6 separate regions of the Homo sapiens genome follow, and all the other regions are linked to region 4. The links come from fine-mapping of genetic effects on gene expression. A gene starts in region 4. Each other region holds a variant in brackets. All regions are shown on one strand. Distances are from middle to middle.

The links. PIP is the estimated chance that this variant, and not a neighbour inherited with it, causes the effect.
Region 1: its variant is the best candidate, but not a certain one, in a credible set for the expression of N4BP2 in stomach (GTEx, PIP 0.58).
Region 2: its variant is the best candidate, but not a certain one, in a credible set for the expression of N4BP2 in subcutaneous fat (GTEx, PIP 0.72).
Region 3: its variant is the best candidate, but not a certain one, in a credible set for the expression of N4BP2 in whole blood (INTERVAL, PIP 0.61).
Region 5: its variant is the best candidate, but not a certain one, in a credible set for the expression of N4BP2 in CD4 T cells (Kasela 2017, PIP 0.52).
Region 6: its variant is the best candidate, but not a certain one, in a credible set for the expression of N4BP2 in monocytes (Fairfax 2014, PIP 0.60).

The regions. Positions count from the first base shown.
Region 1 is chr4:39,871,052-39,875,140 of GRCh38, forward strand. PDS5A (PDS5 cohesin associated factor A) reads right to left here. Exons shown (of 33, transcript NM_001100399.2): 20 at 3,238-3,361; 21 at 1,935-2,093. Among named protein-coding and RNA genes, the nearest start is that of PDS5A, 100 kb to the right of the region's middle. The variant T/TA (reference allele first, on the strand shown) is at 2,556.
Region 2 is chr4:40,092,139-40,096,227 of GRCh38, forward strand. All of the region lies in intron 2 of N4BP2 (NEDD4 binding protein 2), which reads left to right. Among named protein-coding and RNA genes, the nearest start is that of N4BP2, 37 kb to the left of the region's middle. The variant C/T (reference allele first, on the strand shown) is at 1,533.
Region 3 is chr4:39,420,864-39,424,952 of GRCh38, forward strand. The region is part of intron 1 of KLB (klotho beta); the gene reads left to right. Among named protein-coding and RNA genes, the nearest start is that of MIR5591, 11 kb to the left of the region's middle. The variant G/A (reference allele first, on the strand shown) is at 2,389.
Region 4 is chr4:40,054,792-40,058,880 of GRCh38, forward strand. It overlaps N4BP2 (NEDD4 binding protein 2), which reads left to right and starts at 2,059. Exons shown (of 18, transcript NM_018177.6): 1 at 2,059-2,239. It also overlaps the pseudogene LOC344967. RefSeq lists silencers at 1,271-1,480, 1,821-2,280, 2,331-2,680 and enhancers at 2,871-2,920, 3,021-3,120.
Region 5 is chr4:40,080,096-40,084,184 of GRCh38, forward strand. The region is part of intron 2 of N4BP2 (NEDD4 binding protein 2); the gene reads left to right. It also overlaps the pseudogene LOC124900183. Among named protein-coding and RNA genes, the nearest start is that of N4BP2, 25 kb to the left of the region's middle. The variant C/CAAAA (reference allele first, on the strand shown) is at 2,180.
Region 6 is chr4:40,145,914-40,150,002 of GRCh38, forward strand. All of the region lies in intron 16 of N4BP2 (NEDD4 binding protein 2), which reads left to right. Among named protein-coding and RNA genes, the nearest start is that of RHOH, 49 kb to the right of the region's middle. RefSeq lists an enhancer at 1,678-2,459. The variant A/G (reference allele first, on the strand shown) is at 1,623.

The DNA.
Region 1 (4,089 bases), 180 kb before region 4:
ATACAACAGACACAAAAGGACAAATATCATATAAGAGATACCTAGAATAGGTAGTCATAGAGTCAGAAGGTAGAACAGAGGGCAATGGAGAGTTGTTGCTTAATGGGTACAGAGTTTCTGTATGGGGTGATAAAAAATTCTGGAGATGGATGGGGTGGTGATGATTAGGTAACAATGTGGCTATTATGTTAGTGAATTTTAACACTTAAAAATAGCAAATTTGATACTATGTATAGTTTATCACCATAAAAAAAGACCGTCTGAAAACACAATCTATCAACAATCATCATTTAAGAGGTATCTTAAATTTCACATTTGTTGAAAACCACATCTATCGAAAGTAAAAATAACAGCAAGGATATGTAAGGGTAGAAAATGAGACTTAGGCCACGTTCTTCTCTTCTTGTCTGCTGCGTTCAAAAGTGGAAGGTGGTACAAATACAGAAGGGGCACTAGCAGGTGTCTTTAAGTTCCTGATACTGAGGCCTCAAGATTACCGAAACATGTGAGAGTTAGGAACTTTGGATAAGCTGGATTTGTGGCAAACTAACACTTAAATGAAAGTCATCCACAATGATCCAGCATATCTGTGTCTTTATTCAATAACAACAGATTTAATTTAGATCCATTTGGTAAAGCAGTGATTCTTTTATTTATTTATTTATTTTTTTGAGACAGTCTTGCTCTTGTCGCCTAGGCTGGAGTGCAATGGTGCAATCTTGGCTCACTGCAACCTCTGCCTCCCGGGTTCAAGCGATTCTCCTGCCTCAGCCTCCCGAATAGCTGGGATTACAGGCACTCGCCACCAAGCCCGGCTAATTTTTTTGTATTTTTAGTAGAGACAGGGTTTCACCATGTTGGCTAGGCTGGTCTTGAACTCCTGACCTCAGGTGATCCACCCACCTCGGCCCCTCAAAGTGCTAGGATTACAGGCGTGAGCCACCAAGCCCTGCCAGTAGTGACTCTTAATCAAGGTGTGTTTCCGAAATCATTTGGGGAGTCTTTTCAATCTATACATTCCAACCCAGAGGTAATAAATCAGAGCACACAGACATCAATAAATCTAGTGCCAAAAGTACAGTGTATTATCTTAAAAATTAGTCAAATTCAAGTCCACTTACTTTTTTTTTTTTTTTTTTTTTGAGACAGAGTTTCGCTCTTGTTGTCCAGGCTGGAGTGCAACTGTGCAATCATGGCTCACTGCAACCTCTGCCTTCTGGGTTCAAGTGATTCTCCTGCCTCAGCCTCCTGAGTAGCTAGGATTACAGCTGCCGTCACCACACCCGGCTAATCCACTTACATTTCTAACAATGTTTGATAAAACAAATTTTAGCCCGGCATGGTGGCTCACACCTGTAATCCCAGCACTTGGAGAGGCCAAGGCGGACGGATCACCTGAGGTCAGGAGTTCAATATAAGCCTGGCCAACATAGCGAAACCCCGTCTCTACTAAAAACACAAAAATTAGCCAGGCGTGGTGACAGGCACCTGTAATCCCAGCTACTTGGGAGGCTGAGGAATGAGAGGAGGCCAAGGTTGCAGTGAGCCGAGATCGTGCCACTGCATTCCAGCCTGAGGCACAGAGCGAGACTCTTGTCTTCAAAACAAAAAACAAAAATAACCCAATTCTAACATTCCAGAAAATGATAAACTGTCTTTTGAGGGTCAGGAAAATAGCTTTTACTTATATGTAACTTTCATGATTCACCAATCCCGTGTTCTAATTTTTGTTTCTTAAGTGTGAAATTCTAGTAGTAATAGCTACCATGAAATAAGGAAGTAGTTTCGAATTTAAATAAATAAAAAATAAGTAGAACCAATATAGAATAATTTAAAAGAAAAAGAGAATTACACAGAAACAGAAGTGTTTCTGTGATGAAGATGTAAACAGCCTTAATCTCATGATTCTCAATTTAATTAAATGAGAAACTTACCCTGTCATTCATTAGCAGATCTTTCACAATAAAATTTGCTACTACAGATTTCATTGGGGAAGCAAACTGATCTGGTGCTAACATAGAAATGTGGCCCAATGAAACTAATGGAGTTATAAGTTGTTCTGGCACATCAGCATTCAGACTCCTACTGAGTGGCTATAAAAATAAAACAGACAAAATTACCAATTTGTTTGATAAATATCTAGACACTCTACTGAAACAGTACATTTTCCTGAGTCCTCCTGAATTTACCATGCCCAAACCAATCTTCTCTAATACGATCATAACTAACTTCAACCATGTTAAGACACCTGGTTCTTAATTCACCTACTAAAATTTAGCAAGATTGAAAGAATGTAGAAAAAAGATAAAAGAAAAAATAAAATCCAACAAAAAGAAGTTTAAAGAAAAACATTTTTGCTTCATCAAATCAGCATTATTTTTGACTAATCTACAACAATGGATTTGCTATACCAGTGGTTTTCTTACCCTGTGGAAGCATTTTAAATGACCTTAAATCATACAAAGTAAGAGTTCACTGGGTTTTGGTCACACTATCTCCAATTTATGATAATAGGAATACATTTCTAATAGTAAAATGAGGCCAGTCATTATATG[T/TA]AAAAAAAAGGGAAACAGGATTAATTTTCAGGTAGGGTTCTTAGGTACTTTAAACTGGATTGTTCAAAATTATCTACTAATACTTTCCGAGGATAAATGCACCACTGAACCAATAAGGCTAAAATTAAGTAAAATGTTCTAACATAAACACATAAGGCTAGGTGTGGTGGCTCATGTGTGTAATCCTAGCACTTTGAAAGACTGAAGTGGGTGGATCGCTTCAGTCCAGGAGTTTGAGACCAGCCTGGGCAACATGGCAAAACCCCATCTCTATAAAAAAATCCAAAAATTAGCTAGGCATGGTGGTGGTGCCTGTACTCTCAGCTACTTGGGAGGCTGAGGCAGAAGGACTGCTTGAACCTAGGAATTCGGGGCTGCAGTGAGCAGAGATTGCATCACTGTACTCCAGCACTGGTGAGAAAGTGAAACTTTATCTCAAAAACAAACTAAAAAACAAAAACCACAAAACCCTTCAATATGAGGTGTTTGAACATATAATCTGATCTACAGGCTGGGAATGCAGTACCACATAAAATAGACAGAATCCTTGCTCACAAGGAATTTATAGTCTAAGGTAGGACTTCATATAAACAGCTTTAAAAAATCTAGCTTCCATCTTCATCAAACTATAGAGCTTAAAAAATAAAGACCAATATAAACACAACCTATATATTAGATATACCTCAAAAATCTGTGCAAGCTGGACTTCTTTATTTGTGAATATGGCGTGTATACAGTGCACAGCCTGTTTTGCTTGGTGTGGAGTACCCCTCTTTGCTTTTTGATGTAAAATGGGAATTAAGGTCCTGCAAAAAATAATATAGTTGTTTTTTTTTCTTAAACCCATAAACCAACAAGTATTCCTTTGGTTGACTTCCACTTCCCCTATATGGATGGATGCTAGTAGAGAAGGCTCTCTTAAAAATTATCTGATCTAAAGAAAGTTGTAAAAAAGCTCCATCTCTGCCCCCAAGTATAAACCAAGAAATACAATGCCTCAAGAAAAAGCCTACTTCAGGAGACAATTTTTATTTTAAAGTTACCTCACAAATATGCAAAATAACAAGCAACCCTTAATTCATAATCTAAAGCTTACCCCATGACATATTTTTGCATTTACCTTCTAAGTAGCAATATTGCTAATTTTTCAATTCCCTTTTATAATCCCCTTCAGTTATTTCAAAGTAGCTACAGAAAGAGAGTAGCAAAAGGCCAAGTTGTATTAAACAGCTGAAATAATACTAGTGAAAGAAAGTATGCAAAGATACAGCTACATATATATCAGTAGAATGGCAATAAAAATATCTAACTATTATGTGCCAGGCACCATTCTAGGTATTTCCGCATGGATTAATTCAACTAATGTTCACATCCACCCAAAGAAGACTATCATAGTCATTACACAGATGAGAAAATTAAAGCACAAAGATGTTATTTAAGCCTCCTAAGATGACGAAGCTAGGAAACTGGGAGTTGGGATTTGAAAATTAGCATTTCTTTCAAAATCCACATACTTAACCTCTACACTGACAAT
Region 2 (4,089 bases), 37 kb after region 4:
TGCTTTTGGTATCAGGATAATACTAGCATCATAAAATGGATTGGAAGTGCTTTCTTATTTTCTGGAAGAGATTATGTAGGATTAGTATTATTTTTTCCTAAAAATGTTTGTTAGAATTTTCCATTGAAGCTATTTGGCCCTGGAAATTTTTTTTTTTGAGTTTTAAAATTATGAATTAAATTTCTTTATAAATTATAGTGATTTTATCTTTGTCTTATTGGATGAGTTTTGATTCTTTGTGGTTTTTGAGACATTGGTCCATTTCATATAAATTGTCAAACTTTTGTGTGTTCATAGTTTACTTTATTAGCCTTTTGATATCTGCAAGGTCTATAGTAATATCCCTTTTTCATTCCTGATGTTGGTAATTTCTGTCTTCTTTTTTCTTTGTCAGTCTTGCTAGTCTTTCAGTTTTATAGATCATTTGGGTAAACCAGCAATTTATTTCATTGAATTTTCTCATTATTTTCTGTTTCCAATGTTTGTTATCTGCTATTTATTATTTCCTTTTTTTTTTTTTTTTGAGACAGAGTCTTGCTCTGTTGCCCAGGCTGGAGTGCAGTGACACAATCTCAGCTCACTGCAGCCTCCACCTACTGGGTTCAAACGATTCTCTTGTCTCAGCCTCCCAAGTAGCTGGGACTACTGGCGTGCACCACCATGCCCAGCTAATTTTTGTATTTTTAGTAGAGACGGGGTTTCACCGTATTGGGCAGACTGGTCTCGAACTCCTGACCTCAGGTGATCCACCCACCTCAGCCTCCCAAAGTGCTGGGATTACAGGCATGAGCCACCGTGCCCGGCCTGCTCTTTTTTTTTTTAAAGATGGAGTCTTGCTTTTGTCACCCAGGCTGGAATGCAATGGCGCAGTTTCAGTTCACTGCAACCTCTGCCTCCTGGGTTCAAACGATTCTCCTGCCTCAGTCTCCGGAGCAGCTAGGATTACAGGCGCCTGCCACCATGGCCAGCTAATTTTTGTATTTTTAGTAGAGAAAGGGTTTCACCATGTTGGCTAGGCTGGTCTTGAACTCCTGACCTCAGGTGATCCACCCGCCTCAGCCTCCCAAAGTGCTGGGATTACAGGCATGAGCCACCATGCCTGGCCCCGGCCTACTCTTTATTATTTTCTTCTTTCTGCTGGGTTTGAGTTTATTTGCCCTTCGTTTTCTGGGTTCTTATGGTGGGGGCTTAGATTATTCATTTGAGACTTCTTTTCTAATGTATGCATTTAGTGCTATAGATTTTCCTGTAATCACTGCTTTAGCCATGTTCTACAATTTTTTTTTGAGACAGAGTCTTGCCGTGTCACCCAGGCTGGAGTGCAGTGGCTCGATCTTAGCTCACTGCAACCTTTGCTTCCCGGGTTGAAGTGATTCTCCTGCCTCAGCCTCCTGAGTAGCTGGGATTATAGGTGTGTGCCACCTTGCGTGGCTAATTTTTGTATTTGTATTATTTATTTATTTATTATTATTATTTATTTATTTATTTACTTTTGGAGACAGAGTTTTGCTCTTGTCGCCCAGGCTGGAGTG[C/T]AATGGCACTGTCTTGGCTCACTGTAACCTCTGCTTCCTGGGTTCAAACGATTCTCCTGCTTCTGTTTCTTCAGTGCGCGTGCCAGCGCTCCTGGCTAATTTTTGTATTAGTAGAGACGGGGTTTCACCATGTTGGCCAGGCTGGTCTTGAACTCCTGACCTCAGGCGATCCACCCACCTCGGCCTCCCAAAGTGCTGCAATTACAGGTGTGAGCCACCGCGCCCAGCTAATTTTTGTACTTTTAGTAGAGATGGGGTTTTACCATATTGCCCAGGATGGTCTTGATCTCCTGAGCTCAGAGTGGTCTGCCCACCTCAGCCTCCCAGGGTGCTGGGATTACAATCCAGGTAGGCGTGAGCCACCACACCTGGCCTACAAATTTTGATATGGTATATTTTCATTGGCATTCAATTTATTATATTTTAAAAATTTTTTCGAGACTTCATCATTGACCCATGGATTATTTAGATGTATATTGCTTGGAAATTTTTATGTTACTGATTTCTAGTTTGATTCCATTGTGGTTGGAAAACATACCTGTGTGATATCAATTGTTTTAAATTTGTTGTGGTTTGGTTTTAGCTTAGGATATGATCTATCTTGGTATGTGTTCTGTTAATACTTGAAAAGAGTGTGTATTTTGCTGTTGTTGGGTGGAGTGTTCTGTAAGTGTTGATTAGATCCTTAATTATTGGTGTTGTTGAGTTCTATATATTTGCTGATTTACTGTCTAGTTTATTCTGTCTGTTGTTGATAGAGTGGTGTTGAAGTCTCCACCTATAATTGTGAATTTGTCTATTTCTCCTTTCAGTTTTAGCTTCACTTATTTTGTAGCTCTTTTTAGTGCATATACATTTAGGGTTGCTATATCTTTTTTATTTTTATTTATTTATTTATTTTTGAGATGGAGTTTCGCTCTTGTTGCCCAGGCTGGAGTGCAATGGTGTGATCTCAGCTCAATGCAACCTCTGCCTCATGGGTTCAAGCAATTCTGCCTTAGCCTCTCGAGTAGCTGGGATTACAGGCATGCACCATCTTGCCTGGCTAATTTTGTATTTTTAGTGGAGATGGGGTTTCTCCATGTTGGTCAGGCTGGTCTCAAACTCCTGACTTTAGGTGATCTGCCCACCTCGACCTCCCAAAACGCTGGGATTACAGGTGTGAGCCACCGCGAGTGCAGTGGCGTGATCTTGGCTCACTGCACCTCTGTCTCCTGGGTTCAAGCGATTCTCCTGCCTTAGCCTCTCGAGTAGCCGGGACTACAGGTTAGTTCTTTTTGTATTTTTAGTAGAGACAGAATTTTGCCATTTTGGCCAGGTTGGTCTCAAACTCCTCACCTTAAGTGATCCTCCTGCCCATTGTCCAACGTGCTGGGATTACAGTCGCGAGCCCCTGAGTCTGGCCAGGGTTACTATATCTTTTTTTTTTTGAGATGGAGTTTTGCTCTTGTTGCCCAGGCTGGAGTGTAATGGCGCTATCTTGGCTCACTGCAACCTCTGCCTCCCAGGTTCAAGCAATTCTGCTTCAGCCTCCTGAGTAGCTGGGATTACAGGCCCATGCCACCACGCCTGGCTAATTTTTGTATTTTAGTAGAGACAGAATTTCACCATTGTTGGCCAGGCCCGTCTCAAACTCCTGACCTCAGGTGATCCACCCACCTTGGCCTCCCAAAGTGCTGGGATTACAGGCGTGAGCCATAACGCCCAGCCCGCTATATCTTTTTGATGGCCTGATCCTTTATCATTACACAGTGCCTTTCTTTGTCTGTGATAATTTTCTTTGCTCTGAATTCTGCTTATGTCTGATATTAATATATAAATGTACTTTTATTTAATTGTAATTAATTTAAATTTAAATAGGAACATATGGCTGGTGGCTGCCATATTGACAATGCAGTTCTGGAAGGTGGAGAGAGCTATGATACAAATTTAATTAAAAGGTAAATTTTATAACACAATAGAAGATGATAAGGGCAATGGATAGTTAGCAGGAAAGGGGAGATTGGGGCAGAGGGAGCAGGGTATATGATTTTCAGTTGGATAATCAATAGAGAAATCATTGAATGTGACACTTGAACAAAAATTTGAAGGAGTACAGGAGTTAGCCGTGCAGATATCTTGAGGAAGAGTATATCAAGGGCTAGCAGAGAGATACGTCATTGTAAGAACTTTAGTTTTTTCTCTGAGTGATATGGAGAACATATAGGGGTTTAGATCAGACCCTTTTTACATCGTATAAAGCTCAGTCTGGCTGGTATATTGAAAATAGACTATAGGGGGACAAAGTTGCAAACAGGGAGAACAGGTAGGAGGTTGGAATATGGTTGAAAGATGACAGGTGTCAGACCCAATGATTAGAGCAGATTTTGGGAAATATATTAGACATTTAGTTTTGGATATGTTAAGTTTGAAATGTTTATTAGATATATTCAAGCAGAGAAAACAAGTAGACTGCCTGTAGTTCTATTCCAGGTATGAGTCCCTGCCCTTGTGGAGCTTACACTTTATTGGAATATGGGTGGTAAATACAATACGTATGTAAAACATATGCTATGTA
Region 3 (4,089 bases), 630 kb before region 4:
AAACAACACAGAAACACATTGTTAAAAATAAAGGTTCTCTTCTTTCCTTACTCCCTAACCACACACCACGGGAAGTAACCACTGCCAGCAATTTGTTCAATGTTCAAATTTTTTTCTATGTATATATGTACACATAACATATACATACATATAGTGATTTTTGAATCGTATTATTACATTTAGTTTCAGTTATTATTTCTCAATAATCAAAATGTAAAAGCATACTGTTTTTATTTCACTCATTTCCATATTTTTTTCTCCTGTTAGACACCATAGATCATCTAAAGGCAGGGGCTACCTTGTTTTTCTAAATGTCTATTACAGTGCCTTGTATTTGTTAAATAAATGTTTGTAGACTTGAATTTAAATAAATAAAGTAAATGGATGAAGAGTGACAAAAGGGATAAAATAATAGCTGGAGGTTGAAGGAAACTCAGACAAATAAAAGTGACTTATCTAAACATGTTTTTGTTGATGTATATAACTTTGTGTAATGAACAGGATGAAACGTAAGGTAATGCTGATGAATTCTCCATTTGATTGGGTTCTGAGGGGCACCCCAGGTGGTGAAGTGGGATGCAGGCATAATCAAAACTATGACTCCGACCAGGCACAGTGGCTCATGTCTGTAATCCCAACACTTTAGGAGGCCAAGGTGGGCGGATCACTTGAGGTCGGGAGTTCAAGACCAGCCTGGCCAACACGGCAAGACCCCGTCTCTACTAAAAATACAAAAAATAATTTAGCTGGGCATAGTAGCCCGTGCTTATAACTCCAGCTACTCGAGAGACTGACGCAGGAGAATTGCTTGAATCTGGGAGGTAGAGGTTGCTGTGAGCAGAGATCCTGCCATTGCACTCCAGCCTGGGCAACAGAGCAACACTCCGTCAAAAAAAAAAAAAAGACAAGGTCTCACTCTGTCACCCAGACTGGAGCTCAGTGGTGCGATCAGCTCACCCTAACCTCCGCCTCCCAGGCTCAAGCAATTCTCCTGCCTCAGCCTCCCAAGTAGCTGGGATAACAGGCATGTGCCACCACTGCCCTGCTAATTTTTGTATTTTTAGTAGAGGCAGGGTTTCACCATGTTGGCCAGGCTGATCTCGAACTCCTGACCTCAAATGATCCACCCCCTTCGGCCTCCCAAAGTGTTGGAATTACAGGCATGAGCCACCACGCCCGGCCGCCTCTGAGTGTTTCTTAGAGGCTTTCTCAGTCTACTGTCCCTTGGTTTTGTGTCATGTCTGTTGCATACCCCTTGCATTTTCACAGCCTGTTCAATCACCTTCGGGTCTACGGTGTAAAAGTGTATTTCAAAGGCACATAATTTAATTTGCACGATATCCTGGAATGACAGTGAACTAGGAAGGTGAAGGACTTAGTTCTATTTCTAGCTTTACCACTAACTGATATCTTGGGCAGGTCATTTATGTGGGAGAGAGGGAGGTTCAGCTTCTTCATCTATAATAGAAACTTTTAAAAATTGAACAAAATGACCTCTGAGGTCCACACTCTACCTCTAACTGGCAGGCAAGAGCACATAGGGCGATATAGCCTGGGCCTGATTCACCTTGTGCAAGTTACCTAACCTCTCCACCCCCTGGTTTCCTCTCCTCTAAGTGGGAATGATCACAGTACCTACCTCGCAGAATTTCAGTGAGGATTAGGTGAGAGAGTATACACACAACACCTGGAACAGTGTCCGGCACATTTGGTACTAGATATGTGTTAGCTCTTATTAATATTTATATTATTCAATTTCTATGGCTCTTATTTCCATTACTGTTCTGTTACATTCAGTTATGAAAATCACTCATCTCTAAGACCCTTTTAATTATTACTTGATTGAATGCCATGCTGTTCTAAATGCTATGCAGACAAGGATCTCTGTCCTTTCAGTCTAACTTTTTTTTTTTTTTGAGACAGAGTCTTGCTCTGTCACCCACACTGGAGTGCAGTGGTGTTATCTTGGTTCACTGCAGCCTCCACCTCCTGGGTTCAAGTGATTCTCCTGCCTCAGCCTCCCGAGTAGAGTAGCTGGGACTACAGGCGCATGCCACAATGCCTGGCTAATTTTTGTATTCTTAGTAGAGACAGGGTTTCACCATGTTGGCCAGGCTGGTCTCAAACTCCTGACCTCAAGTGATCCACCCATCTCAGCCTTCCAAAGTGCTGGGATTACAGGCGTGAGCCACCGCTCCCGGCCTCAGTCTAACATTGACAATGGTGTAAAGATCACCATTCACAGGGGAAGACAATCCAGCACAGGGGTGGTCCCTGAGGGATTCACTTAGCTTTTGACATCAGTGAGGAAAATAATCCAACGCTAACGTTACTGGTTTTAGGAGAGAGGTGAATCGAGAATTACATATAAATGTTACACATAGAAGC[G/A]CTGTGCTAGGCACTTGGACAACTAATGGTTTTCTGAACACCCCAAATTTGCTGACAGGTCCTCCATGACCTCTCTAGATGATACTGAATTCCAAAGGTATATAGATATTTTTCTCTCAACATGCAATTGTGGAATGTAGTACCCTCATTCGAGGACTATTTAGCTCTTTTAATAACCAAGTACAGCAGAGAGAAAATGTAATTTTAAAACAATATGTCAAATGGTCTTTCCCGAATAGCTTCAAAATTTAGAACTGGCAGGACATACAGAAAGCAGGATGGTGTAATAAAGTGGGTTCAAATCCCAGCTCTGCAACTGTAAACTTCAATTTCTTTTCTAAAATGGGAAAAATAAGACTTGTCTTGCAGAAGCTGTATTATCAATAAGGTACGTCAAGTAACCAACAAACTAGCTGATCCATAATAGGCATTCATTCAACAAATATTCTAGGCCAGGCCCTCCCCTGGGCATCTGTGTGGACAACTGTGAACACAATAAATATAGTCAGTCTCTGCCCTCAAGAAGCTAATAGACCTGGTGTGGAGCCACACTGCACGAGCCTGAGACTTTTACAATAGTGGGGAAGGATCTTTTTTTTAAAATAAAAAAAATTTTAAAGGGAGACAAAAATCAGTACAAAAGTAAATATCTGGCCAGGTACAGTAGCTCAGGCACTTTGGGAGGCCAAGGCAGGAGGATTGCTTGAGTTTGAGACCAGCCTGGGCAACATAGTGAGACCCTGTCTCTGCAAAAATAAATAAATGAGCATTTATTTAGAATGAGAAAAACATCACAATAAATTATGATAGTTATTTTTTGTTTTTGTTTTTGTTTTTGAGACAGGTCTCATTCTGTCACCCAAGCTGGAGTGCAGTGGCACAATCACGGCTCATTGCAGCCTCAACCTCCGTGGGCTCAGGTGATCCTCCCACCTCAGCCTCCTGAGTAGCTGGGATTACAGGTGCACACCACCATACCCAGCTAATTTTTGTATTTTTTGTAGAGACGAGGTTTTGCCATGTTGGCCAGGCCGGTCTCGAACTCCTGGGCTCAAGTGATCCACCAGCCTTGGCTTCCCAAAGTGCTGGGATTACAGACATGAGCTACCACGCCTAGCACAATAAATTACTATAGCCTTAGAGTCCTTTTTTTCTAAAGTCTCTTTAGGGAATTTGCAAGAACTGCTCACCTAGAAATGCTTCCAATTGCAACTAGGCTCCCTGACCCACCCAGGGCATTTCTAGGGACGTAGGTAAGCAAGGCGACCTGAAGCTAAAGCTTCATTAGGCTCACAGTAAATCTGGCTTTGCTGCAGGCTCTACACGTGATGGCCCTTGTTTTTATTATTATAATAATTTGTAATCTCCATGGTGGTTTCTTTTTCTTTTTCTTTTTTTGAGATGGAGCTTCGCACTGTTGCCCAGGCTGGAGTGCAGTGGCGCTATCTCGGCTCACTGCAACCTTTGCATCCCGGGTTCAAGCGATTCTGTTTCAGCCTCCCTGGTAGCTGGGACTACAGGCATGTGCCACCACGCCTGGCTAATTTTTGTATTTTTAATAGAGATGGGGTTTCACCATGTTGGCCAGGCTGTTCTCGAATTCCTGACCTCAAGTGATCCACCCGCCTCGGCCTCCCAAAGTGCTGGGATTACAGGTGAGAGCTACTGTGCCAGGCCTCCATGGTGGTTTATATGTTGACT
Region 4 (4,089 bases):
TGATACTGCGAATGTTGAGTGAAGATTGCTTTGTTCTTCATTCCAGTCTCACTTTCAGAACTTTATGGTGTTGATGTTCTTCTTATTGCCATAGTAAACAAACTTTAAAAACATTCAGCTTGGGTGTTGTCTTTGTGGCTTGAAATATATTTTCCAATGTTAAGAAGAGTTTATTTCTTATTGTTCTGACTTAAGATTTGATGAATCCTTAACAGATGTTCAAAGGAAAATAATTTAAATGCTAGTTTTTATTATCATGGTGAACATATTTCAAAAACAAAATATTAATTTCCTCGACATCTTTCAAGTTTATAATTACTAGGGTTCTTTCATTTCTAAAGTGGCATATATTACAGTTTTTAGTCTCTTATAATGGTTGTTTAGAGGCAGAGTTAATGTTAGCTTCTCAGCAACAGCTATTTATCTCTTGAGATTCTGGGTTATTACAATTTTTTGTTTTTGAAATTTAATAAAAGCATTAAGGGGTTTTTGTATAGTGATTTTTTTTTAAGGATGAACATGAAGTCTGTGATTTAACACTGGGACTCGAGACCTCTAAATACAAAATTCATACAAAAGGAAAAATTCCCCTATTTTTCTATATGGATGGTTTCATCAGAAAATTTATCTTCTTGAGTTCTCTCCTTATATATTACTAGTTTCTTGAAAAAGCACTACAACGTTCTCATTGTGAATAAGTGTTCCAGTTAGACCTAAACGACAAAAACCACTTGCACTTGCCCCAAATTTACACTCTGTTTAAAGCAACTGCCATAACAACCAACAATGTATCTTCGATGCAAAGGGACACTTTGTCATGAGGTTATTTCGCTTCTCTATTCTGGGAAAAACCACTGCAAGTGGAATGAAAAGTAACCGCAAAGGGAGGGGACGGAGGAAGTAAAAAACAGGCAAAACCACCACCACTACCATCACCACCACCACCACCAACCAGAAAGCAAAGGTGAAAAATTTGCGTACCCTGAAAACACTAAACATTTCACATCAGAACCCAGAACAAATAAACCAGGGAAAGCAGAGTTGAGAGAAAAAAAATGGTGCAGGCTTGGGGACGGACTCATACTACAGCGGTCGCAAGAGGGAAGAGCACGTCTTTGCTTTTTCTTGGCATCCGAAAACTCAAGCTCGAACTGGGGGCAAAGGCCAGCGGCTGCGGTTCCACCGGCTAAGGCGCACACATTCCCCGAGCTCAGACCGCACGCTGGCAGGGCCGATGGGGCTGGGCAGCCTCCCTCCACCCCGTGGCAGTCGCCTACCCCTTTGTCTCCCCGTGGGGCTCCGAGGCCGCGCGCCCGGAAGCCCCCCGCGGGAGGGCCGCGCGCGAGAAGGCGGGTTCCCGTGCCCGCCGCAGCGGCCACGGCCCTAGTCAGGCAATGCCGAGGCCGGTCGCTCGCCTCGCCGTCCCTCCCAACTTGCAGCCTGGACCCCGCGCGCGTCAGGGCTCGTCCCAGCTCTGCTTTCCTTTCTCCCCTCACCTCGCGAGGCCGACCTTGTGTTTGTTTTGTTTTTTGGGGCTCGGGAGAGTGCCGAGGGCTAGAAACAGCTGTGGTTTACCGCGCCGCTTATTTTGGCAAAAATTCCGGGCCTGTTGCAATGTTCCCCAGCGCCAAACAGCTCCCGCCTTCCCCCCAAGCAGAACCCGACACTCGAAGAAGGGCTTGCTCCTCCAGGGACCCCCTGATAAGAAAAGTGGGGACCACGGCCCGCTCTCGGGCGAGACTTGGGGGGTGGGCGACCGGAAGCAGCCGAACCGGCCGGGCAGGGCTTGCTCTCCAACGGGAGAGCGGGAGCGGGAGAGGTGGGAGCGCCCGCGGGCTCAAGTCCCCCGGGCCGCCGCGCCGAGGCGGAGCTCGGGGACGAAGCAGAGGTCGTGGCGGACAGCCGGCGGGCTTGGGGGGGGGCGGTGGGCGGCGATCCACCTGGGCGACGTGGCAGCCATTGCCGGCGCCTCGAGACCCCTCCCCACCCGGCCGCCCACCCGCCCTCTCGCGGCGGGCTTCTGCGCGGCTGCTCTTCCCCGGCCGGACGGAGAGCGGCAGTGTCTCCCCGCCGGGCGCGCTCGCCGTGTCTCCCCCGCGGCCGCAGCTGCTTGCTAGCCTTGCGCGGCGCGGGAGAGCGCAGTGGCGCCGGCGGGAAAGGGCTGCGGACCTGCGGCGCCGCGTTGTGCGTTCGACGACGCGGCACCGGCTTCGACGCCCTCTGCCCGCTCCAGAAGCAGGTAAAGGCGGCGGGTGGGAGGCAGGGAGGCGGGTCCAAGGTGAGGGCCCTGGAGGTTAGGGGTCCCGGGGCTCCGAGCCGAAGCGGAGGGCCTGAAGCAGCGGCGGGCGGCGCGGCGAATGAACCCCCAAGCCCTGAATGTGGGGCCCGGCGCGGGCCGCCTCCGATCTGACCCGCGGGCCCGGCTGCCCGGACGGAAGGGAAGTGAGGCGTCGGCGAGAGGCGGGCCCTGGCGCTCAGCCCGAGGCCGGGCGAAGGCGGGGGCCGCGGCCGCTTCCTTGGCCTCCGAGTGCCTGGCGGGCCTCCAGGCCCCAGACACACCCCTCTCGACCCCCCGAGGTTTCCTCCCAGATCTGTTCCCGCCGGGACCTGACCTTGCGCCCCTCCAGGCGCCTTAGGTGTTTGCCAGGCGGAGCCTTCTGGGAACTTCAGGCCACCTTCCTGAGCACATAGTCCTAGCAGAGCCGTTTATTTACTCAGTTCAAGTCCAGACACACAGCCACTCACACGTTCGGATTTTGGAGACTGCGGGGAGACTTTCCCCTCCCCGGCATTTGTGTGTCTTTGGCCCTCGTCCCGCCTCCCCTGCCCCCATCTGCAACTTTGTCCCTCAATGGGACCCTTCTAGAGCCCCTCTCTCATCGGGACTCTCTCTAAGCCGTCCGTTTGGAAATTCATCCTCAATAGAGTGAGTCATCTTAGCGGGGGCACAGTTTATCTCTCATGCGCTTTTGGTTAAAATAGTTTTTTTTTTCCCTCCGAAAGAGAGCTAGAGTAATAGAATGTAGATGACAGGTCAGTGTCAGTGTTGGCTTCAAAGGCTCTTCCTTTCGGCGGCAGTCTTTGTAACTAGGATCTGATATTTGTGGCACGGACAGGTTTGTACACATTCTCGCCATGCAGTGGTTGTAATGTCTCCATGGCACAGTTCTGGCTTGAAGGCAGGATTGGCTGCTTTTTCTACTCGACATCTTTGAGCCAATCAGCAAGGGCTGCTTGCCTGGAGACTGGTTAACTCAGTAAAGGTGGCCATTGGTTGAGCTCCTAGAAGAAAATCCTGGAGATGAACCTAGCCTCTCAGAAAACAATGACTGATTTGCAGCTGTATTAAAAAAATGTTTTCTTTTAATCCCAACATCAGCCTTTTCACTCCGTTTTTATTACTTCCAGTGTTTTTCTTTCAAACACCAGCTGTCTTTTGTAACTCGTTTTAACTCTCATCCTTTAATTTTAACTAAAAGACGCGCTTTAGGAAATGTAAACATCGTGTGTTCTGTGTTTTGATAAACGTGGTTCCATCTGCCTTTCTAACATTGTTTACTGCTAAAGGTCAGAAATAAACAGTTTTGAGTTTCGCTGCCAGGACCTTTTATTATTTAAGTGCCGTGCTAGGATGGGGGGTAGGAGCGAGGGGCTGTAGTGGTGGACATGGTGGGAAGAATAGGAAATAAATGGCTGCTCTTTTGCAAGGAGGCTACAATTTAGTTAATGAAAAAAGACTAACCTGTAAAACAATAAAGAATAAAGCAGTTGAAATCAGCACGCAGTACGTACGAATGCCAGTTTGTGTACTTGTTGACTTTAGTTAATTTGAAGGGGAGATAGAAGTACTGTATTTCATAGAAAAAGTGGGCTTAAGTTATGGTAGAGGCATGTTTTTTCCTTCATTAAAGTATATTAAAGTAGGCATAGTATCTTGTATGTACACAGTAGAAGCTAAATATTATCACTAGTTGCATGTTTTTTTTTTAGTATTTATTTTAAATCTAAATACTGTTACATAGTTGCATCTTATTTATTTATTTTTTTGAGACAAGGTCTGGCCGTATCGCCAAGGCTGGAGTGCAGTGG
Region 5 (4,089 bases), 25 kb after region 4:
AATACAATCTCTGTTTAGGTCAGGTATGTATATGAAGATGCTATACAAGGTTGTTTAAACTAATGTATTAATAAGGAGGCTCTCATGAAAAAAGGAAGATACGTAAGATTAGATGATAAAATAGTTAAACCTGAGCATCACTTACAGTAGAATATGTGGGATTGAGATAAACTGGATTATAAGTAGAACAGGTGATTGGGAGATAGTGTGAGCTGTATATATATATATATACACACACACATATATATGTATATATATAATTTTTTTTTTTTGAGGTGGAGTCTTGCTCTGTTGCCAGGCTGGAGTGCAGTGGCACCATCTCGGTCACTGCAACCACTGTCTTCTAGGTTCAAGCAATTCCCCTGCCTCTGTCTGGGACTACAGGTACGTGCCACCACGCCCAGCTAATTTTTTGTATTTTAGTAAAGACAGGGTTTCACCATGTTGGCCAGGCTGGTCTCGATCTCCTGATCTAGTGACCTGCCCGCCTCGGCCTCCCAAAGTGCTGGGATTACAGGCGTGAACCACCGTGCCTGGCCTATATATGTTTTTATACATCAGAATTTTCTTATTTATTTATTTATTTGTTGAGATGGAATCTCGCCCGGCTGGAGTGCAGTGGCGTGATCTTGGCTCACTGCAAGCTCCGCCTCCTGGGTTCACGCCATTCTGCTGCCTCAGCCTCCCACGTAGCTGGGACTACAGGCGCCTGCCACCACGCCTGGCTAATTTTTTTTTTTTTTTGTATTATTAGTAGAGATGGGGTTTCACTGTTTTAGCCAGGATGGTCTCGATCTCCTGATCTCGTGATCCGCCCACCTCAGCCTCCCAAAGTGCTGGGATTACAGGCATGAGCCACTGCGCCTGGCAAGAATTTTCTTTAATACACTAAACATTATTTGGACACTAAAACTGCCTATATGTTTAGATCTTTTTACATACAAATAGACACAGTGAAAAAAAGGGAATGGAAGGGATATATAGCTTGCAAACTGGAGGAAGTACAGAGGGAAGTCCATGATTCACCTTTAATTTATAATAATGATTTTTTCCTGATTATGGAAAAAATGCATTTCTTACGGATTATGTGGAAAATGCGAAAGTAGCATATAAAAAATATATTAAAAAAATCACCTATGATTCTATTATCCAGAGATTTCTTTTCCAGTCTAATTTAAGTCAGTCCCTTTTGTGTGTCTGGGTAGATTATATTTAGTTGAGTGTCTTGCTTTCATTTCTAACATTCTCTTTTAAAAAACTACAGTGAAGGCCGGGCGAGGTGGCTCACACCTGAAATCCCAGCACTTTGGGAGGCCGAGGTGGGCGGATTACCTGAGGTCAGGAGTTCAAGACCAATCTGACCAACATGGTAAAACCCTGTCTCTACTAAATATACAAAAATTAATGGGGTGTGGTGCCGCATGCCTGTAATCCCAGCTACTAGGGAGGCTGAGGCAGGAGGATTGCTTGAACGCGGGAGCTGGAGGTTGTAGTGAGCCAAGATTGTGCCATTGCACTCCAGCCTGGGTGACAGTGTGAGACTGTCTCAAAAATAAAAAACAAAAACAAAAAACTACAGTTAAATATTATCCAAATCAGGCTGGGCACAGTGGCTCATGCCTTTAATCCCAGCATTTTGGGAGGCTGAGACGGGTGGATTACCTGAGGTCAGGAGTTTGAGACCAGCCTGGCCAATGTGGTGAAACCCCATCGCTACTAAAAAATACAAAAATAAGGTTGGGTGCTGTGGCTCACGCCTGTAATCCCAGCACTTTGAGAGGCCAAGGTGGGTGGATCACCTGAGATCAGGTGTTTGAGACCAGCCTGACCAACATGGAGAAACCCCATCTCTACTAAAAATACAAAATTAGCCGGGTGTGGTGGCGCATGCCTGTAATCCCAGCTATTCGGGAGGCTGAGACAGGAGACTCGCTTGAATCTGGGAGGCAGAGGTTGCAGTGAGCCAAGGTTGCGCCATTGCACTCTAGCTTGGGCAACGAGCGAAACTCCATCTCAAAAAAAATAACAAAATAAATTGGGTGTGGTAGCGAGCGCCTGTAGTCCCAGCAAACTGGGAGACTAAGGCAGGGGAATTGCTTGAACCCAAGAGGTGGAGGCTGCAGTGAGCCGAGATGGCGCCACTGCACTCCAGCCTGGGCGACAGAGCGAGACCCTGTCT[C/CAAAA]AAAAAAAAAAAAAAAAAAAAATTATTCAAAACATAGTCTTTTTAAATGGCTGTCTAAATTTCCATTATGTCAATCTAAAGAGGTGTTGTATTCAATAATCTAACAATCCTGGGTTCAGCTTAATAATAGAAACAACCCAATTTACAAATAGGCAAAAGAATCCAAACAGACATTTATTCAAAAAAGTATATAAATGCCAATAAGAACATGTAAAGATGGTCAACAACATTTGTCCTTAGGAAAATGCAAATCAAAACCACAGCTAGATACCACTAGGATTATGTGGAAGAGTTAGTTCCTTGAGCCCAGGACTTCGAGACCAGCGTGTGCAACAGAGTGAGACTCTGTCTCCAAAATAAAAAACAACCAAAAAGCCTAAGCAAACAAACCAACCCAACACCTCCTGGTGCTTAACCACAGGCTGTATTCTTTTTTTTTTTTTTGAGACAGAGTCTTGCTTTGTCCCCCAGGCTGGAGTGCAGTGGCTCAATCTCGGCTGACTGCAAGCTCTGCCGCCCGGGTTCACGCCATTCTCCTGCCTCAGCCTCCCGAGTAGCTGGGACTACAGGCACCTGCCAGCATGCCCGGCTAATTTTTTGTATTTTTAGTAGAGACGGGGTTTCACCGTTTTAGCCAGGATGGTCTCGATCTCCTGACCTCGTGATCTGCCTGCCTCAGCCTCCCAAAGTGCTGGGATTACAAGTGTGAGCCACCGCACCCGGCCGGGCTGTATTCTTACACTGACTGTATAGAAAGAGGAGATAGAGTAAACCTACCCCGTATACTTCAGCCCACGCCCTGTGCCTGTTCTGTATTATGAAGCGGGGTTGGGGGGCGGTGCAGACATAGAAAAAGGAAAAAACAAAAGGAAAAAAAGAAAAACAAACCCAAAACAAAACAATTGACAGTAACAGTGTTGGTGAGGATTAGAGAAATCAGAGCCCTTACACATTGCTGGTGGAAGCTGAAATTGGTGCAGCTGCTTTGGAAAACCGTTTGGCAGTTCCTCAAAAGGTTAAACATAGAGTTACCGTATGAACTAGCAATTCCACTCTTAGATATATACTTGAGAGATATGAAAACATGTCCACAGCAAACTCTTATACAAATGTTCATAGCAACATTATTCACCATAGCCAAAAAGTAGAAACAACCCAAATGTCCATCACTTGATGCATATGTACATAAAATGTGTTATATCCGTACCATGCAATATTTTCTAGCAGTATCGGTGAAGTACCAATACAGGCTACAACATGGATGAACCTGGAAAACATGCCAAGCGAAAGGAGCCAGTCACAAAAGGCCATGTTTTAGATTATACAATTCTCTTCATATAAATGCCTAGAATAGGTAAACCTATAGAGACAAAAGTAGATTCGTGGTTGCCAGGGGATAGGAGAGGGAGGAATGGGAATGGTTACTAATGGGTGGTGGGGTTTCTTCTTGAGTTAATAGAAATGTTCTGGAATTAGTGGTGATGGTTGTACAACTCTGAATATACTGGAAACCACTGAATTGTACACTTTTGAAATGGTGAATTTTATGGTTTACATATTATATTTTAATAAAGCTGGTATAAGTAGAAATTTGGGAGCTCCCACACTTAAAACCAATCCACGACGCTACCTTTGATACAGATGGTAGTGGTGAAGGTGATGATTTTAAATGTATTTTGGATTTATTATTCATTCATTCATTCAGACGGGGTCTCACTCTGTCACCCAGGCTGGAGTTGCAGTGGTGTGATCTCTGCTCACTGCAACCTCCCCCTCCTGGGTTCTCCTGCCTCAGCCTCCTGAGTAGCTGGGATTACAGGCATGCGCCACCACTCCCAACTAATTTTTGAACTTTTAGTAGAGACGGGGTTTCGGCATGTTGCCCAGGCTGGTCTTGAACCCCTGACCTC
Region 6 (4,089 bases), 91 kb after region 4:
GCACTTCGGAGGCCGAGGTGGGCGGATCACCTGAGGTCTGGAGTTCGAGACCAGCCTGGCCAACATGGTGAAACCCCGTCTCTACTAAAAATACAAAAATTAGCCAGGCATGGTGGCATGCACCTGTAATCCCAGCCACTTGGGAGGCTGAGGCAGGGAGAATTACTTGAACCCTGGAGGCGGAGGTTGCAGTGAGCCAAGATCACGCCACTGCCCTCCAGCCTGGGTGACAGAGCGAGACTCTTTCTCAAAAATAAATAAATAAATAAATAAATAAAATAAAATAAAATAAGAAAATACAAGTTGTATTTAGGATAAATTCTAAAATCCCTACATAATATCTCTTGCTTACCTCTCCAGTCTCACCCTGTGTTTTTTTCTCCTTTTCTGTATATTTAACTACACTGTCAGTCTTGACCCCCATACTAGTTAGGCCCCCTGTTAATAACTTCTCACAGTACTCCTACCTCTCACAGTGTTTATAAAAAGCTTATTGTATAATTGGTTATTAAATACCTGTCTTTTTGGCCAAGAATTGAGCCAGTGATGATCATGTTTTTTCTTCAACACTCAAAAAAGTTTTTGAATAAATGACTAAATAATGGTAGTTATTACTCTTATTTTTTTGACAAATAAGATTGTTTATATTGAAAGTATGCAATGTGATGATTTGATAAATGTACACATTGTAAAGTGATTACCACAATGAAGTACTTTAGCACATACATCACCTATTGTTACCATTTTGTGTGTGGGGGATGAGAACACCTATGACTTACTCTCATAGCAAATTTCAAGTATATGATATAGTGCTATTAAATATTATTACCATGCTACACATTAGCTCAGCAGAATGTATTCTTTTTAAGCTTGTACCCTTTGACCAGCATTTCATTTCCTCCTCTCTATTCTGGCCCCTGGCAACTACCATTCTATTATGTTTCTATGTGTTTGGCTTTTTTTTTTTTTTTTTTTTTCCCCAGGTAATGTTTTTATTTTTATTTTTTTATTTTTTTTATTGATCATTCTTGGGTGTTTCTCGCAGAGGGGGATTTGGCAGGGTCATAGGACAATAGTGGAGGGAAGGTCAGCAGATAAACAAGTGAACAAAGGTCTCTGGTTTTCCTAGGCAGAGGACCCTGCGGCCTTCCGCAGTGTTTGTGTCCCTGGGTACTTGAGATTAGGGATTGGTGATGACTCTTAACGAGCATGCTGCCTTCAAGCATCTGTTTAACAAAGCACATCTTGCACCGCCCTTAATCCATTTAACCCTGAGTGGACACAGCACATGTTTCAGAGAGCACAGGGTTGGGGGTAAGGTCATAGATCAACAGGATCCCAAGGCAGAAGAATTTTTCTTAGTACAGAACAAAATGAAAAGTCTCCCACGTCTACTTCTTTCTACACAGACACAGCGACCATCCGATTTCTCAATCTTTTCCCCCACCTTTTCCCCTTTTCTATTCCACAAAACCGCCATTGTCATCATGGCACGTTCTCAATGAGCTGTTGGGTACACCTCCCAGACGGGGTGGTGGCCGGGCAGAGGGGCTCCTCACTTCCCAGAAGGGGCGGCCGGGCAGAGGCGCCCCCCACCTCCCGGACGGGGCGGCTGGCCGGGC[A/G]GAGGCGCCCCCCACCTCCCTCCCGGACATGGCGGCTGGCCGGGTGGGGGCTGACCCCCCCACCTCCCTCCCGGACGGGGCGGCTGGCCGGGCGGGGGCTGACCCCCCACCTCCCTCCCAGACGGGGCGGCTGGCCGGGTGGGGGCTGACCCCCCACCTCCCTCCCAGACGGGGCGGCTGGCCCTCACTTCCCAGACGGGGTGGCTGCCGGGCGGAGGGGCTTCTCACTTCTCAGATGGGGCGGCTGCTGGGCGGAGGGGCTCCTCACTTCTCAGACGGGGCAGCCAGGCAGAGACGCTCCTCACCTCCCAGACGGGGTCGCGGCCAGGCAGAGGCGCTCCTCACATCCCAGACGGGGCGGCGGGGCAGAGGCGCTCCCCACATTTCAGACGATGGGCGGCCGGGCAGAGACGCTCCTCACTTCCTAGATGGGATGGCAGCCGGGAAGAGGCGCTCCTCACTTCCCAGACTGGGCAGCCAGGCAGAGGGGCTCCTCACATCCCAGACGGGGTGGCGGCCGGGCAGAGGCTGCAATCTCCGGCACTTTGGGAGGCCAGGGCAGGCGGCTGGGAGGTGGAGGTTGTAGCGAGCCGAGATCACGCCACTGCATTCCAGCCTGGGCACCAATGAGCACTGAGTGAACGAGACTCCGTCTGCAATCCCGGCACCTCGGGAGGCCGAGGCTGGCAGATCACTCGCGGTTAGGAGCTGGAGAGCAGCCTGGCCAATACAGCGAAACCCTGTCTCCACCAAAAAAATAAGAAAACCAGTCACGCATGGCGGCGCGCGCCTGCAATCGCAGGCACTGGGCAGGCGGAGGCAGGAGAATCAGGCAGGGAGGTTGCAGTGAGCCGAGATGGCAGCAGTACAGTCCAGCTTCGGCTCGGCATCAGAGGGAGACCGTGGAAAGAGAGGGAGAGGGAGACTGTGGGGAGAGGGAGAGGGGGAGGGGGAGGGGGAGAGGGAGTTCGGCTTTTTTAGGTTCCACATGTAAGTGAGATCATACAGGATTTGTCTTTCTGTGTCTGGCTTATTTCACTTAGTATAATGCCCTCCAGCCACATCTGTATTGTTGCAAATGGCAGGATTTTCCCCTTTTAAAAAATTTTTAATTAAATTTTTATTTTTATTTAAAAGAAATAGGAGGTCTCAGTGTGTTGCTTAGACTGGTCTCGAACTTCTGGGCTCAAGTGATCCTCCCACCTTGGCCTTCCAAAGTGCTGAGATTGCAGATGTGAGCCACCATGCCTGGCCTGAGCCACTGTGCCTGGTCCCCTTTTTATTGTTGAATAATATTCCATTGTGTCTATATCACATTTTTTTATCAATTTATCCATCGATGGACAATTAGGTTGTTTCACCCAGCCTGGATGACAGAGTGAGACTCTCTAAGAAAAAAAAAATTGAAAAATCGAAAAACAGAAAAATGAAATGGAAAGTAATCAGTATTGTTAAGGATGTGGATAAATTGGAGCCCTCATATATTGCTAGTGTAGCCACTGTGAAAAATTTCACTAGTTCTTTGAAAGGTTAAACATATAATTAACCGTATGACCCAGTAATTCTGCCCCTAACTATGTACCCAAGAGAAATAAAAACACAATATGTCTTTACGGAAACTTGCATATGAATGTCTGCAACAGCCAAAAGGTGGTGGTAACCTAAAAGTTCATTAACTGATGAATAGAGAAACAAAATGTGGTAAATCTATACAATGAAATTTAATTTAGCCATGTAGAGAAATGGCGGACCTTGTAAACATTATTCTTTGTGAAAGATGAAGGCAGATAAAAAGCCATATGTTGTATGATTTCATTTTTACCAAATGTTCTGAGTATGTAAATCTAGAGAGACAAAAATTTGATTAGTGGTTGCTGGGACTGGAATGGCAAGAATATGAGCAGTGACTGCTATGAGGCACAGAATTTCTTTGTGAAATGATGGAATGTTCTGGAATTAGTGGTGGTGGTTGCACAACATGATGAATATGCTAAAAACCGCTTAATTGCATATTTTAAAATGGTTAGTTTTATGTTAATTTTATCTCAATTAAAAAAATTGTAAGAAGAGAAAAAGAGGCCAGGCTCAGTGGCTCATGCCTGTAATCCCAGCACTTTGGGAGGCCGAGGCTGGCGGATCACGAGGTCAGGAGATCAAGACCATCCTGGCTAACACAGTGAAACCCCGTCTCTACTAAAAATACAAAAAAAAATTAGCTGGGCATGGTGGCGGGCACCTGTAGTCCCAGCTACTTGGGAGGCTGAGGCAGGAGAATGGTGTGAACCAGGGAGGCGAAGCTTGCAATGAGCCGAGATCGAGCCACTGCACTCCAGCCTGGGTGACAGAGCGAGACTCCATCTCAAAAAGAAAAAAAAAAAAAAAAGAAAGAAAAGAAAAAAGAGCTAAGTAATTTGCCCAAGGTAATACTTGGTCAAGATCCAAGATGCAGATCTTTTCTGGAAGCCAA